Regions from separate parts of the Homo sapiens genome. Here region 2 is linked to region 1. Evidence: fine-mapped expression QTL. A gene starts in region 1. The other region holds a variant in brackets. All regions are shown on one strand. Distances are between the middles of the regions. Region 1 holds the start of MYH7B (myosin heavy chain 7B). Region 2 overlaps GGT7 (gamma-glutamyltransferase 7).

The links. PIP is the estimated chance that this variant, and not a neighbour inherited with it, causes the effect. A credible set is the group of variants that fine-mapping cannot tell apart.
Region 2: its variant is the best candidate, but not a certain one, in a credible set for the expression of MYH7B in lymphoblastoid cells (GTEx, PIP 0.89).

What each region holds. Positions count from the first base shown.
Region 1 is chr20:34,954,323-34,957,226 of GRCh38, forward strand. It overlaps MYH7B (myosin heavy chain 7B), which reads left to right and starts at 1,546. Exons shown (of 45, transcript NM_020884.7): 1 at 1,546-1,685. GSS (glutathione synthetase) reads right to left here and starts at 1,484. Exons shown (of 13, transcript NM_000178.4): 1 at 1,405-1,484. RefSeq lists enhancers at 1,292-1,391, 1,632-1,811.
Region 2 is chr20:34,862,097-34,865,000 of GRCh38, forward strand. GGT7 (gamma-glutamyltransferase 7) reads right to left here. Exons shown (of 15, transcript NM_178026.3): 2 at 1,217-1,452; 3 at 718-869. Among named protein-coding and RNA genes, the nearest start is that of GGT7, 9.3 kb to the right of the region's middle. RefSeq lists an enhancer at 937-1,488. The variant C/A (reference allele first, on the strand shown) is at 1,178.

The DNA.
Region 1 (2,904 bases):
GGCAGGCGGATCACCCGAGGTCGGGAGTTCGAGACCAGCCTCACCAACATGGAGAAACCCCATCTCTACTAAAAATACAAAATTAGCCGGGCCTGGTGGCGCATGCCTGTAATCCGAGCTACTTGGGAGGCTGAGGCAGGAGAATAGCTTGAACCCAGGAGGTGGAGGTTGTAGTGAGCCGAGATCGTGCCATTGCACTCCAGCCTGGGCAACAAGAGCAAAGCTCTGTCAAAAAAAAAAAAAAAGAAAAAAAGAAAGAAAGAAAAGAAATCAGATGAAGGTGCTAAGTGGGCCCTTTGTTTTTCTCATTCTACAGCCTCAACCCTCCCTTGGCTTTATTTATGTTTTGCTGATGACATTCAAATCTACATCTTCACAGCAATACTTTCCTACCTTCAAACTAGAATATCCAATTTTTTCCTGCGAGTCTCCATACAACCAGAATAGAATTTGTTGTTGTCTCCCACAAATCTGCTTCTTCTCTGATGAACCCCACCCAGGTACCCAAGCCTTGAGTACTTGTTTCCTACATCTCACTCTCCCCAAATCCTATGGATTTTGCTGCCTAAGTATATAGTACTTTGAATTCCTTTATTTATCTCCATTTCCAGAGTTTGTAGCCTAGCCCCGGCCACTGTCATCTCTTCCCTGGGCGTGAAACAGATTCAGAGTCAGGTGTCTTCAGTGACCAGGATATGTTGGCCTCTGTCCCCCTTCCAGGACTTGGCACGTGCTGTCTTCTCTTTGGAACTCTCGCCACCACTCCTGATCTGGGCTCGCGATTTCGTTCCGGAAGCTGTCCCTGTTCTCCGCCCCGGGCTTCTACATTCTACAGCCCATCACTTTTCCCTGTACCGTAGGAACAGTGTTTGTCTTGATCACTTCTCTACCTAGTAATTAGCCGCGCTTAGTACTGTATTCATTCATCACATGAATGAATGAAGAATGAATGACAGACGGGTCAGATCACCGAAAGCCTCAAAACGCCCACAAGGAAATCGGTCGCACTTTATCGCCAGGACTTAGGCCAGTGCCTGGAAAGGCCCCGAGGCAACGACACGGTCGGCTGCCCAGGCTGGCCCCACTTCACGGGCCCGCTCGCTTCCACCCTGGACAAAGTTTGGCCCTAATCGCTCCCCGTTGTAGCTCTAACTGGCTCCAGTCTCACTGGCCTACATGCCCCGACACCGGCCCGATCTAAAGGCAGAAGATCCGGAAAGTCTGGGATCAGTGCGCGCCAGCCCAACCCCCTCACTAGACACTAGTTGCCCCGCTCCTACGAAGGGTTTCAGCCACAAGGTCTCCCGGCCTCCGGAATTCCAATCTCTTGCCAGACCCCTCCCTCACATCGTTCCTCCCGAGGAAACGTGACCCATGCCGGCCGCCGTGGCCGCCCCAACCTACTAGTTCGCCTTTCCTCCGCGAACGGTTCTCCCGGCCCTCGCGCCGCTACCCAGGCTCAGGGGGCGGGGCCTCGATGCGACCCAGTGCGCTTGCGCTGACCGCCCCGGCTAGGCTTAAAGAGCAGGCGGGGCAGAGACCCATACCTTTGGCGCTGAGTCGAGGCCAGGAAGGGGCGGTCGATGAGAGGGCGGCCTTAGCATTAGGAGTGCGTCGGCTGCACCCTGGCGGATGGACCTTGGGAAGGAGGGGAGGGGACCATCGGGGTCGGCGGGGAGCTACGGGTATGCATAGCTCATAGAGCGTCAGAGCTGACGACGACTAGTGGAAGATGGGGAAACTAATGCTCAGAGCGGGACAGTCACTACCTCAGGGGCACACAATTGATAAGGGTGGGGGTGGCCGTGGTAATGGAGGCCCCAAGGAGGGGCAGGGGCCCATAGTACGTCAGGGGCTGAGCCTGTATTAGAACCCAGGCTTGTTTCCCAGCCCAGCCAAGTCCCAGAAAAATCCCCCTGATTTTATCTATTTTTTTTTAACCTGGGATACCAGCAGGGAAAGCATTAGAGGCAAAAGGAAAGGATTTTCATTTTTCCAGGAATGCTGAAGTCAGGACTGTTTGAGGGGAGCCCTGTGTTTCTCAGACTCTCTTGTACCGTTTACATCAGGATCTGGGGCAGTTTTTAAAAATATGCGGATTCATGATTCCTACCCCCCACCTCATTGCTTGGCAGCCCCCAGGTGCCTTCCCTGTTTCTTCCTTCTGGGTTGTGATAGGCTTGTCTGCAGTCCGAAGCACCTGATACGAATTTTAGTTAAATGGAATGTATCAGTCCAGCTTCTAGGGAATTAACCATAAATAAGACACAGCCACTGCTTTCAGTCTGATAAGATAGGCAATAAACTGCCTTTCTGAAGGAATCAGGGATGGTTTTTGGGGTCTTGAAGGATGGATAGGAAGGTATAGGTAGTGAAGGAGGTAGGGGTAGAGGTGAGAGGCTGGGATGGGGACAGTGTTCCAAATTGCAGGAACAAAAGCAGCAAAGGCTGGCTGGGTGCAGTGGCTCAGACCTGTAATCCCAGCACTTTGAGAGGCCGAGGCAGGTGGATTACTTGAGCTCAGGAGTTGGAGACCAGGCTGGGCAACATGGCGAAACCCCGTCTCTACTAGAAATACAAGAATTAGCCGGGTGTGTTGGCCCGTGCCTGTAATCCCAGCTACTCGGGAGGCTGCGGCGTGAGAATTCTTGAGCCCCGGAGACGGAGGCTGCTGTGAGCTGAGATCACGCTGCAGCACTCCTGCCTGGGTGACAGCGTGAGACCCTGTCCTAAAAACAAAACAAACGAGCAGCGAAGGCATATAATTCTGAGGGTTGCTCGGCTTGTTTTACAGACACTGAGGAGTTTGGTGTGGATAATGAGGAAGGGCCTGAGGGTTGCAACAGGACTTAGGCGCTTAGGCTTGGAGAGGTAGCCTCAGACGCCAGTTCCACTGAGCAACAG
Region 2 (2,904 bases), 92 kb before region 1:
ATGCCCACAGCCAAATGACAAACTAAGGCAAGCAGGACAGAGAAGAGGAAGTGGTAGAAACTACGGCAAACTGGACAGTGCATGCCCATCATGGGAAGCAGCTTCTATTCCACGCCAGGTAACTTCAGCCATGTGAGAATGCGGGCCCAAGTTGTTATCGGATTTCCCGATTGTTCAAGAGATGTTGGAAATCTGGATTTTTATGAAAATTCTCAACTTTTTAACAAAAGCAAACAAAATTTTAAGACAGTTCAGTGTCTAAACCAAACCAGTCTGTGTGCTGGGTGTTGCCCATGGGTGGCCAGCTTGTAACTTCTAAGAGTTCTTAGTGCAGGGTGTATTTTTGGAGGACAGAGGGTGCAAGGCTTTTCATCAGACCCATAGGGATTTATGATCCTAGAAGTTGAAATATCTCTGCCTTAATTGATGACAGTATACCTCCACCTGTGCATCTTAATTTATGGTTTACAAATTTCTTTTTCTAGTTAAAAAAAAAAAAAAAAAGCTTCTGAAAACACTTTCAGGTTTTCCATAAGGTAGCTTTGCTCTTCTGACTCCATCCAGGGAGAAGGGGGTGAAATTTGGTGTAGAAAGAGAAAATGCAAGGAGTTGGGGCCCAAAAGCCCCTCTCCCTAAGTTAGGAGTGCTGCACATGAGGCCTACAGACCTGGAGGCAAGAAGTAGGCCTGGGGGACCCCGACCTCCACTGCTCCTTACCCGCCCAGGCCAGAACTGTGTGGAGCCACGATACCCAAACACAAGGCTGCTGCCACCGCTGCGTCCACAGAAGATCCCTGTTTACTGAGCACCTCGATGCCCAGTGAAGTGCAGCGGGCAGCATCGGTCACCACGGCACCCTGCTGGAAGATCTGGGAGGGGAAAGAGGACTTGGTGGGGGCAGGAGGAGCTGTCCACCTCCCTAGGGCACCTCCACTAGCCCTAGAACTCTACGCGGCATGAAGGTCGAAGCCCTGCCCCCTTGTTGCCTTGACTCTGCCCTCATTACCCCAAGTGCCTCCTAATGGATCTGTCCTTATTCTTCCTTGTTCTGTCTCCCTCATGCCCTGGAGCTCCTCTCTTTGGGACCTTCCTCTCCCAAGTCACCACCCTCTCTCCCCTTCTACCACTCAGCCATTCCCCAGTTTCCACAGTTCCTCAAACATTACCCCACTCCCCA[C/A]TCCCCAGTTTCCTCCCCCTCCCCATTTGTCCCCCTCACCTGGGGGTCCCCGAAGTAGATCTGCATGACCAGCGCCACGGTGACACCGGTAGCGAAGGTGAGACAGGCCGTGACGATGACCGTGAGCCCATCCTGGCGGCAGGAGCACTCGGCCGCTGCGGCGGAGAACGGGTCTTTGCGCGTCTCGCGTAGCGGCGACCCGTCTTGGCTGCCCATCTCCGACGACGACGATGGCAGCCGCTGCAGCCGTGCAGACTTCAGGAAGGAGTCCGGGTCTGCGGGCAGGCAGCCGGGGTCGGTCTGGGCATCTCCTATCTGGCCCTGCCCACCCTCCAGGTGGGACTATTCAGCGCTTTCCCTGCCCCGCCCCTGCCACACAATCCCCGCACTGGCTAGCACTACTCACCTTTCCTCATTTTCGCGTGCACCCCAGGACAGGCGGGGCAACGGTGCCCGGCTAGGAAGAGACAGGGACCTCCCCAGCTGGGCAGCAGGGAGGCTGGATTCCCGCCCCTCCCTGATACCTAGGCCAAATTTCCTGGCACCCAGGGCCCAGGGCTGAGAACACTTCCTGGGGGGTGGGGTGGGGGTTCCAGCCCTCAGTGGAAATCGGATCCTGCCCCAGTTGGGGCCCAGCCTTCCATGCAAGGAGGCAGCTACATAAACAGAGTGGAGGGACCCTGCCTTCCAACCTCACTTCAGTTATCAGCTCACTCATTCCTTAAATATGGAGAGCCCTATGCTAGGTGCCAGGGGACGGGAACAGATAGTTCCTGCCCTCATGTGGTTCATAGAGCCCTGGAAGAAAAAGCCAATAAGCAAAGGAGTCTATAATTACAAGTTGTGGCAGGTGCTATGAAGAAAAAGGAGGAAATGACAGAATAATGGTGGTAGGGGAGGGAGGATTCCTTAGCTGCAGAAATCAGGGAAGGCCTCTCAGGAAGTGACTTTTAAGCTGAAAACTAAGGGATGAGAAGGAGCCAGCTATAATGTAGAGCAAAGAGTATGTGTGTGGAATGTTCTGGAAAGAGGGAACAGTGGATGCAAAGGCCCTAAAGTGGGAATGAGCTTGGCACATTAGAAAAAAAAATAACCAAGGCCTGGGCGGCTCTGGTGTAGCAGGCATGGGGAAAGAGTAGTAAGGGTGGAAGCTAGGCCAGATACATACTGAGCGCAGTGGCTCAATCTTGTAATCCCAGCACTCTGGGGGGCCGAGGCGGGTGGATCACTTGAGGTCAGGAGTTTGAGACCAGCCTGGCCAACATGGTGAAACCCCGGCTCCACTAAAAATACAAAAATTAGCTGGGCATGGTGATGTGTGCCTCTAATTCCAGCTACTTGGGAGGCTGAGGCATGACAGTCACTTGAACCCACAAGGTGGAGGTTGCAGTGAGCCGAGATCGCGCCACAGCACTCCAGCCTGGGTGACAGAGTGAGACTCTGTCTCAAAAGAAAAAAAAAAAAAAAGGAAGATATGTGGGGCTCTACTAGCCTGGGGAGAAGCTTGGGTTTTACCCTAAGGACTATGGGAGGTCACTACTCGAGAGGCTATTTTTGTTTGTTTTTGAGATGGAGTTTCGCTCTTGTTGCCCAGGCTGGAGTGCAATGGCACAATCCTGGCTCACTGCACCCTCCGCTTCCTGGGTTCAAGCGACTCTCTTGCCTCAGCCTCTCCAGTAGCTGTGATTACAGGCACATGCCACCATGCCTGAGTAATTTTGTATTTT